Homo sapiens: one gene and its partner. The protein of the gene in region 2 purifies or fractionates together with the protein of the main gene of each other region. This does not show direct contact. Each region holds a gene or a part of one and is shown on either strand. Other genes may lie near its edges.

Region 1 (3,500 bases), on a different chromosome or scaffold from region 2:
TCTACTAAAAATACGAAAAAATTAGCCGGGCGTGGTGGCAGGCGCCTGTAGTCCCAGCTACTTGGGAGGCTGAGGCAGGAGAATGGCGTGAACCCGGGAGGCGGAGGTTGCAGTGAGCCAAGATTGCGCCACTGCACTCCAGCCTGGGCGACAGAGCAAGACTCCGTCTCAAAAAAAATAACAACAACAACAAAAAACCCTTCATTAGAACCCCTCCCTCCCATTTTACAACTGGGGACACTGAGGCCCAGAGAGGGGTAGTGGAAGGGCCCCTCAGGCAGAGTTCGTGGGCTTGGGGAGGAGCCTCGGCCTGGCCCTCCTGGCCGGCACTGGCCTGTGACACTCTGCCCTTCTCCCGCTCCGGGCGTTCAGAACGGGGCTGTTTACCCCAGACATGGCCTTTGAGACCATTGTGAAAAAGCAGGTGAAGAAGATCCGAGAACCGTGTCTCAAGTGTGTGGACATGGTTATCTCGGAGCTAATCAGCACCGTTAGACAGTGCACCAAGAAGGTAACCCGGAGGCCCGGGCCAGCCCCCACCGCCTCTGCCCCGCCCTGCACTGCTGCCAGGCGCTCCTTCCCCATGTCCCCCCCTGCCTCCTCGGTAGCATGTACAGACCTCAGCGGGGTGGGGAGGCAGGCCACCACTGAATAGGAGACAATGTGCCTCTGAGAGGGCCTCACCCACCCCTGGCCCCCAGGTCTGGGGACCCAGGGATTGGACATGGGTGAGACGGGGATGATGGCTGGCTGTTTACCCCAAGAGCCCACCAAGAGCTCCCCCAGCTCAGAGAATAGGGCTTGAGGGGACCCTGAGCCCCCTCCCTGTCCTCGGAGGTGTCATCTTTGGGAGCTCCAGGGAGGGGTCTGGGGAAACCTTAGCCTTGGAGACAGGTGAAATGCAGGGCCTTCTCGGGCACTGCTCGGTGGGCCTGGGTGGCCAGAGGGGGTGCAGAGGACCCAGGACTAGCAGGTGCCCTGGCTCCCCGCTGTCCTTCATCCTCCCCATACTCATCTCACCCTCACTCAGGACCCTCACACAGGATGCTCACGTAAGACCCTCACTCAGGGCCTCTCCCTCCCTTCCATCCACATCTGGCTTTCCAGGGATAGAGCCCTTCTCCCATCTGCCCCACCATCCAAGCCTCACAGAAGCACGCAGGGAGGCAGGACAGGGAGGACGGTGCCCATTTCACAGCACGAACACTGAAGCTCCAGGAGATCAAGTGGCTTGCCCAAGTCACAGTAGTCAGGAGGTGGCAGAGCTGTTACTTGAAGCCACGGCTCTGGACTCCAAGTCCAGTGCTCCTCGATTCCACCCTCCAGCCTCCCTTCCTTTCCTCTCCCCACTGCTGTCCCGGCCCCTCTCTATCACTACCTCTACTCTTTCTGTCTTTCCTCTTCTCTTTCTGTCTTTTGGTTCCACCAAACCCCTGTGGAGGAGAGGCCAGGAATGCCCCTTGAAGAGAAAGGGAGGGGCGGGACTAGAGCAGGGAGCTGGAGAGGGAGGTCAGGCTGCTATACTGCAACCCTAGGAGGCAGCCTCTGCGCCACGGTTTACGGGAATGGACCCCCCTGGAGTTGTGCAGTGCATGGCCTGGGCAGCTGGATGCGGCAACCCTAGAGATAGGGAATGGTACTGAGGTTTGGAGTCAGGATGAAGCAAATTCTGGGACACTGGGAAACGTAGAATTGAACAGGATGGGTGGATGAGGTCCTGGCCTTGTCCTGGCCTGGGTCAGCTCCTTAGGAGAACCCAAGGCTGTGGACAAAGACGGCACTGGGAGAGAGCAGGCAGCCTCAGTGAGGCCGAGGAGCAGGGGAGCATCCCTGGGAAGAGGATCTGAACTCAATAGGGGTCTTGTACGGAGCAGGGGCTTGGTCCCTCGTACCTCTGGCCATACCTATGGAGCCCAGGGGATGCTTGGCAGCACCTGGGAGGTGCCAACCCCGGGTGGCAAGGGAGGGCCGGTCCCACGCTCACATTGTCTTCTGTTCTCTCTCTCTCTTTATCTGTGTCGATGTCTCTCTCTCTTCCCCCGTGCCCGTGCCATCCTCTCCACCCCTGGATTCCTGTCTCTGCTTGGCTTTCACCCACTTCTCCTCCCCACCCACGGCTGCTCCTCCTCCTGTCCCCACCTCCTCCCCGGGTGCAGGACGGGCCTCTTCACACCTGACCTCGCTTTTGAAGCCACAGTGAAAAAGCAGGTGCAGAAGCTCAAAGAGCCCAGTATCAAGTGTGTGGATATGGTAGTCAGTGAGCTCACAGCCACCATCAGAAAGTGTAGCGAAAAGGTATGACGGCCGCCTGGGCGGGGCTGGGCCTGGCCGTCCATTCCTTGTGGCCACAGCCTCCCGTGGGCAGAAGGATCTGCTGAGCCGGCCTCACGGCTACCCGCAGGGACCCAGCCCTAGTGTTTCCTGCCAGTTTCTAACCCTGGGTACTTGCACTCATGACCCCTCCAGGCCCCCATCCCAGAAGACTTGACTCCAACCCAAGCCTCCTTGGTGGCACCTATGCTAGTGATGAAGATGATGTTAAGGAGATGGCAGCTGTTTACTGAGCACCTACTATGTGCCAAGCACACGCTAAGTGCTTGCCCTTACTATCTGACTCAGTCCTCTCAACCACCCTAAGACGTGGGTAGTGTTGTTATTCCCATTTTGCAGATGGCAAAACAGAGTCTCAGAAAAGAGAAGCAGAGTGTGATTCAGTTTTAGGAAGGACAGAGGAAGGGGTCTGAGGTCAGGGCCTCCTGGGCAGGGGGAGCTGTCCTAGTTCCTCAAAACCAATTTGCCTGAAAGCATATTGGATTACTCACTTTACAGTAATCCGTGCGTGAGAGACAGGGGCGGTCTCTTTTGAGTTGTCTGTGACTTTTTAGATGCCTTTTTCCTATTTGTCTGCTTTTGGGCATTTTGAGGATTTTTAGCCAGGTTGTCTAAAGCAGTTCTTCCCAGGGGAGTGCGAGAGAATCAGTTGCCTGCAGGAGCTTCTCCAGCAGGCTAAATCAGAGGTGCCAGGGGTGAGCCCAGCCTCACCTATATCTGAAGGACTTCCCTATGCTGGTGGGTGGAGGCACATCCACCTTAGCATTGAGTTTCAAATAAGCATCAATCATCTCCATTCCTTTTTTTTTTTTTTTTTTTTTTTGAGATGGAATCTTGCTCTGTCGCCCAGGCTGGAGTGCAGTGGCACCATCTTGGCTCACTGCAACCTCTGCCTCCTGGGTTCAAGTATTCTCCTGCCTCAGCCTCCCGGGTGGCTGGGATTACTAGCATGTACCACCACACCTGGCTAATTTTTGTATTTTTAGTAGAGATGGGGTTTTGCCACGTTGGCCAGGCTGGTCTTGAACCCCTGACCGGAGGTGATCCACCTGCCTCGGCCTCCCAAAGTGCTAGGATTACAAACATGAGCCACCGCGCATTCTTTTTTACTGAGCAGTGTGTTGTGTAATCCTTGTATGTTGCTACATAAAGATTGGTCTCATGCCTTT
Region 2 (3,846 bases):
AAAATTCTGCGTCCTTACCCATTCACAGTGTGCATTATTAAAGACTGAAGAACTGCAGTAAGAAATTGCACTAGTTTCCAGGATGCCACACTCTCCTAGCTCCAGTCTCCTCTGCTCATCTCTCCAACTTCTCACCATTAGAATGCCCCCATGGCTCTGTTACAGGAACTCTTCTCTAGTTTCAGGCACTCCCTAGGTGACCTCATCCAGTCCCATGGCCTTGAAATATGAACTACGTCTATGCTTACATAACCAGCCCCATTCTTCCCCCGAGCTTCAGACTCAGACGTTCAACTGCCTATTCCACACCACTGCTTGAATGTCTAATAATTCCTTCAAACTTAAAAAGTTAAAACAGGGCTGGGCATGGTGGCTCACGCCTGTAATCCCAACACTTTGGGAGGCTGAGGCGGATGGATCACCTGAGGTCAGGAGTTGGAGGTCAGCCTGGCCAACATGGTGACACCTCGTCTCTACTAAAAATACAAAAATTAGCCAGGCATGGTGGTGGGCACCTGCAATCCCACCTACTCGGGAGACTGAAACAGAAGAACCGCTTGAACCCAGGAGGCAGAGGTTGCAGTGAGCTGAGATTGCACCACTGCACTCCAGCCTGGGCGACAAAGGGCGAAGCACCATCCCAAAAAAAAAAAAAGTCAAAGTCGAAACAGAATTCCTGATCTTCTCCCTACCTTACCAGATCCTCTTACAACTTCTCCCATTTCATTTAATGGCAATCCTGGCTGGGCGCAGTGGCTCATGTTTGTAATCCCAGCACTTTGGGAGGCCGAGGTGGGTGAATCACAAGGTCAGGAGTTCAAGACCAGCCTGTCCAACATGGTGAAACCCCATCTCTACTAAAAATACAAAAAATTAGCCAGGCATAGTGGCGAGCGCCTGTAACCCCAGCTACTTGGGAGGCTGAGGCAGGAGAATTGCCTGAGCCCAGGAGGCAGAGGTTGCAGTGAGCCAAGATCTCACCACTGCACTCCAGCCCGGCCAACAGAGTGAGACTCTGTCTCAAAAAAAAAAAAAAGACAATCCCAATCTTCTACTGCTCAGGCCAAAAATCCTGCACTCCCCTCTTTCTGTCACCCTAAATCCAATCAATCAACAACATCCTGTTGGCTGTACCTTCAAAATATATTCAGAATCTATTTGTGACCATACCCACTGTTACACTCTTGGTCCAAACCAACATCACCTCTTGTCTGGATTATTGCAATCCCTAATATCCTTGCTTCTATCCTTAAACTCTACAAGAACATTTTCAGCACAGAAGTCAGGGATCCCTTTAAAACCTAAGTTCATCTCAAGCTTCTCAATCAAACCCTTCCAGTGGTATTCCATATCAGAGTAAAAAGCCAAAATCACTACAAAGATCTGCAATGACATATATAATCAGCCTCCTGCTGCATCTCTGGCCCCACTTCCTACCACGCTCCCCTCAGTCATGCAGGCTTTGTTATTTCGTACCCACTAGATATGCATTCATTTCACAGTCTTATTCTTGCCTGGAATGCTCTTACTTAAGACACCTGAATGGCTCACTCACTCAAGCCCTTAAGGACTTTGCTCAAGTGTAACAAGAGAGGACTTTCCAACCAACACCCCCACCTCACCACACACCCTCTTCCTATGCCCCTTTCCTGCCTTTTTTTAAACTGTAGCATTTAATCATCTGCTTAAAATGTTTTAATAATTTTTTAACTGTTTATCTTACTAGAATACATACTTCGTGAGGGTAAAGGTTTTCGTGTGAGGTGTTCACTGTTTTATCCCAGGTGCCTAGAACTATGTCTAGCACATTGCAGGTTCTCAATAAATACTTTTACTGCAGACTACACAGTCGGGCAATATATGGATATAGATATTCTGAGTATGCCAAATTAGTTTCTGACTCGGGAGCCTTCATAATTGCTATTCCTCTGCCAGAATATCAGCCCCCAGATAAGTATGTCTTCCCACCCACTTCTTCACTCAAACAACATCTCCTCGGAGAGGCCTTTCCTACTACCTTATCTAAAATAACCACGCTGCCCAAGCATGCCCACACTTTCACTGCTTCTAACCCTGCTTTTGTTTCATGTTTCTTCATTGTGCTTACCTACCTGACACCACATATATAATTGTATCTTCCTCATTACAATGTAAGCTTGTTAAGCACAAAGGCATCATCTCTTTTTCAGTACTGTCTCTACAACACCTCTAACAATGCCTGACACATAGCAGGCACACAATAGTTACTGACTAAATGAATGAACACAATGCTTAAGTTGAATTTAGCTAGTCTTTCTATGACACAGCAGGAAATTCTACACTGGGTGGGAAGCTGAAGTAAATGCCCAACCCCTAGGATTTCTTCTATCACCACTCTTCTATGAAATAATTAAATGAGAGAGGCTAGGACCAGGTAGTGCCTTTGGAATGCGGAAGAACTACTGACAGATCATGAATAATTAAATAACATTAATTAAAAGCCATATTTTTTAATTACACAATTTTGCCATCCCATATACAAGTGTGTATGGATCCACTGAAGAGAAATAGAAAGGAAAAAGAGGAATGAAAGGAATCCACTGCAATAGACATCCCATATCATTAGAGTTAGAGAAGCAGAAGTTGCTAAGCTTCTTATCTTACAGAGCTGGAGTCCACTGAAGCAAAAGGATTTGTACATTGATAGAGCTAGAAATCAGAACCTTGGCATCCTCTCAATACCATGCTCTTCCCACTATGGCTTTGCCTCACTGGCAAAGTACAAACAATGCAAGAATCTAATGTGACACTAATAAGTAACCACATTCCAGAAAACAATGCGTAAAGGAAAAACAGGCAGTTCACTTAAGAAATACAAATACCCAGAAAAGAAAAAAAAAAAAAGAGGAAAGAATGCTCAACCACACTAACAACAAGTATTGAAACAATAAGTTATTTTTCAGCTGCCTCACTGATACAAAGCTGACAAAAACTCTGTTAGCTGAAAGCACAGAAAAACTGGTACACCCCTTCTGGAGGGCAACCTGACAATTATACCAAACATATGTATATCCTTCGAGCCAGCAATTTCATTTGGAGATATTCACTCAAAAAAGATAAATATAACGCTGCATATCAGCATTATGTAGCATAAACCTGGCTGTATATCATAAGTACCTAAATAATCTCACTCATCACTATTAATAAGCTAAAGGTTTTACTTTGAACAAACTGATAGACTGATAGAGGGAATTGTTTAGCCTTCAGAAATTTTTAATTAAATCATATGGAAATGAAAGTTTGAGAATAAAAGGAAAGCAGCGTAATAGCTAAATGGAGCAAAAGGATCATTAAAAATTTTTCTCAAAGGTAGAGGAAATCAAATTTGATAAAGGGAATAAAAATAGAGTCAGTGAAAAGGAAAATACTCAAAATGATAGGAAGAAGGAGGATGCAATATCCTAGAGCAGTGGTTACTTACATAGGTGAGTTATTAGGGAGGCTTTTTTTTTTTTTTTTTGTAATTATGAGACAGAGTTTCACTCTTGCTGCCCAGGCTGGAGTGCAATGGCACGATCTCGGCTCACTGCAACCTGTGCCTCCTGGGTTCAAGCAATTCTCCTGCCTCAGCCTCCCGAGTAGCTGGGATTACAGGCACCTGCCACCACGCCCAGCTAATTTTGTATTTTTAGTAGAGACGGGGTTTCACCATGTTGGTCAGGCTGGTCTTGAACTCCCAACCTCAGGTGATCCACCTGCCTTGGCCTCCCAAAGTGCTGGGATTACAGGCGTGAGCCACTGCACCCAGCGGGAAGCTTTTCATCATATCAAATCTCCAGGTTCCATTCTGAATTAGAATCTCCAAGA

What was found. The genes of interacting proteins can lie anywhere in the genome.
Region 1: the proteins of CDKAL1 (region 2) and DNM1 purify together in Homo sapiens (affinity purification with mass spectrometry; one large-scale study listed by BioGRID and IntAct). This does not show direct contact.

What each region holds. Positions count from the first base shown.
Region 1 is NC_000009.12:128,223,879-128,227,378, forward strand, and holds part of DNM1 (dynamin-1), read left to right. Parts: intron 1-372; coding exon 373-511; intron 512-2,156; coding exon of another isoform or gene 2,157-2,295; intron 2,296-3,500. UniProt on the Homo sapiens protein: Catalyzes the hydrolysis of GTP and utilizes this energy to mediate vesicle scission and participates in many forms of endocytosis, such as clathrin-mediated endocytosis or synaptic vesicle endocytosis as well as rapid endocytosis (RE).
Region 2 is NC_000006.12:20,537,268-20,541,113, reverse strand, and holds part of CDKAL1 (threonylcarbamoyladenosine tRNA methylthiotransferase), read right to left. Parts: intron 1-3,846. UniProt on the Homo sapiens protein: Catalyzes the methylthiolation of N6-threonylcarbamoyladenosine (t(6)A), leading to the formation of 2-methylthio-N6-threonylcarbamoyladenosine (ms(2)t(6)A) at position 37 in tRNAs that read codons beginning with adenine.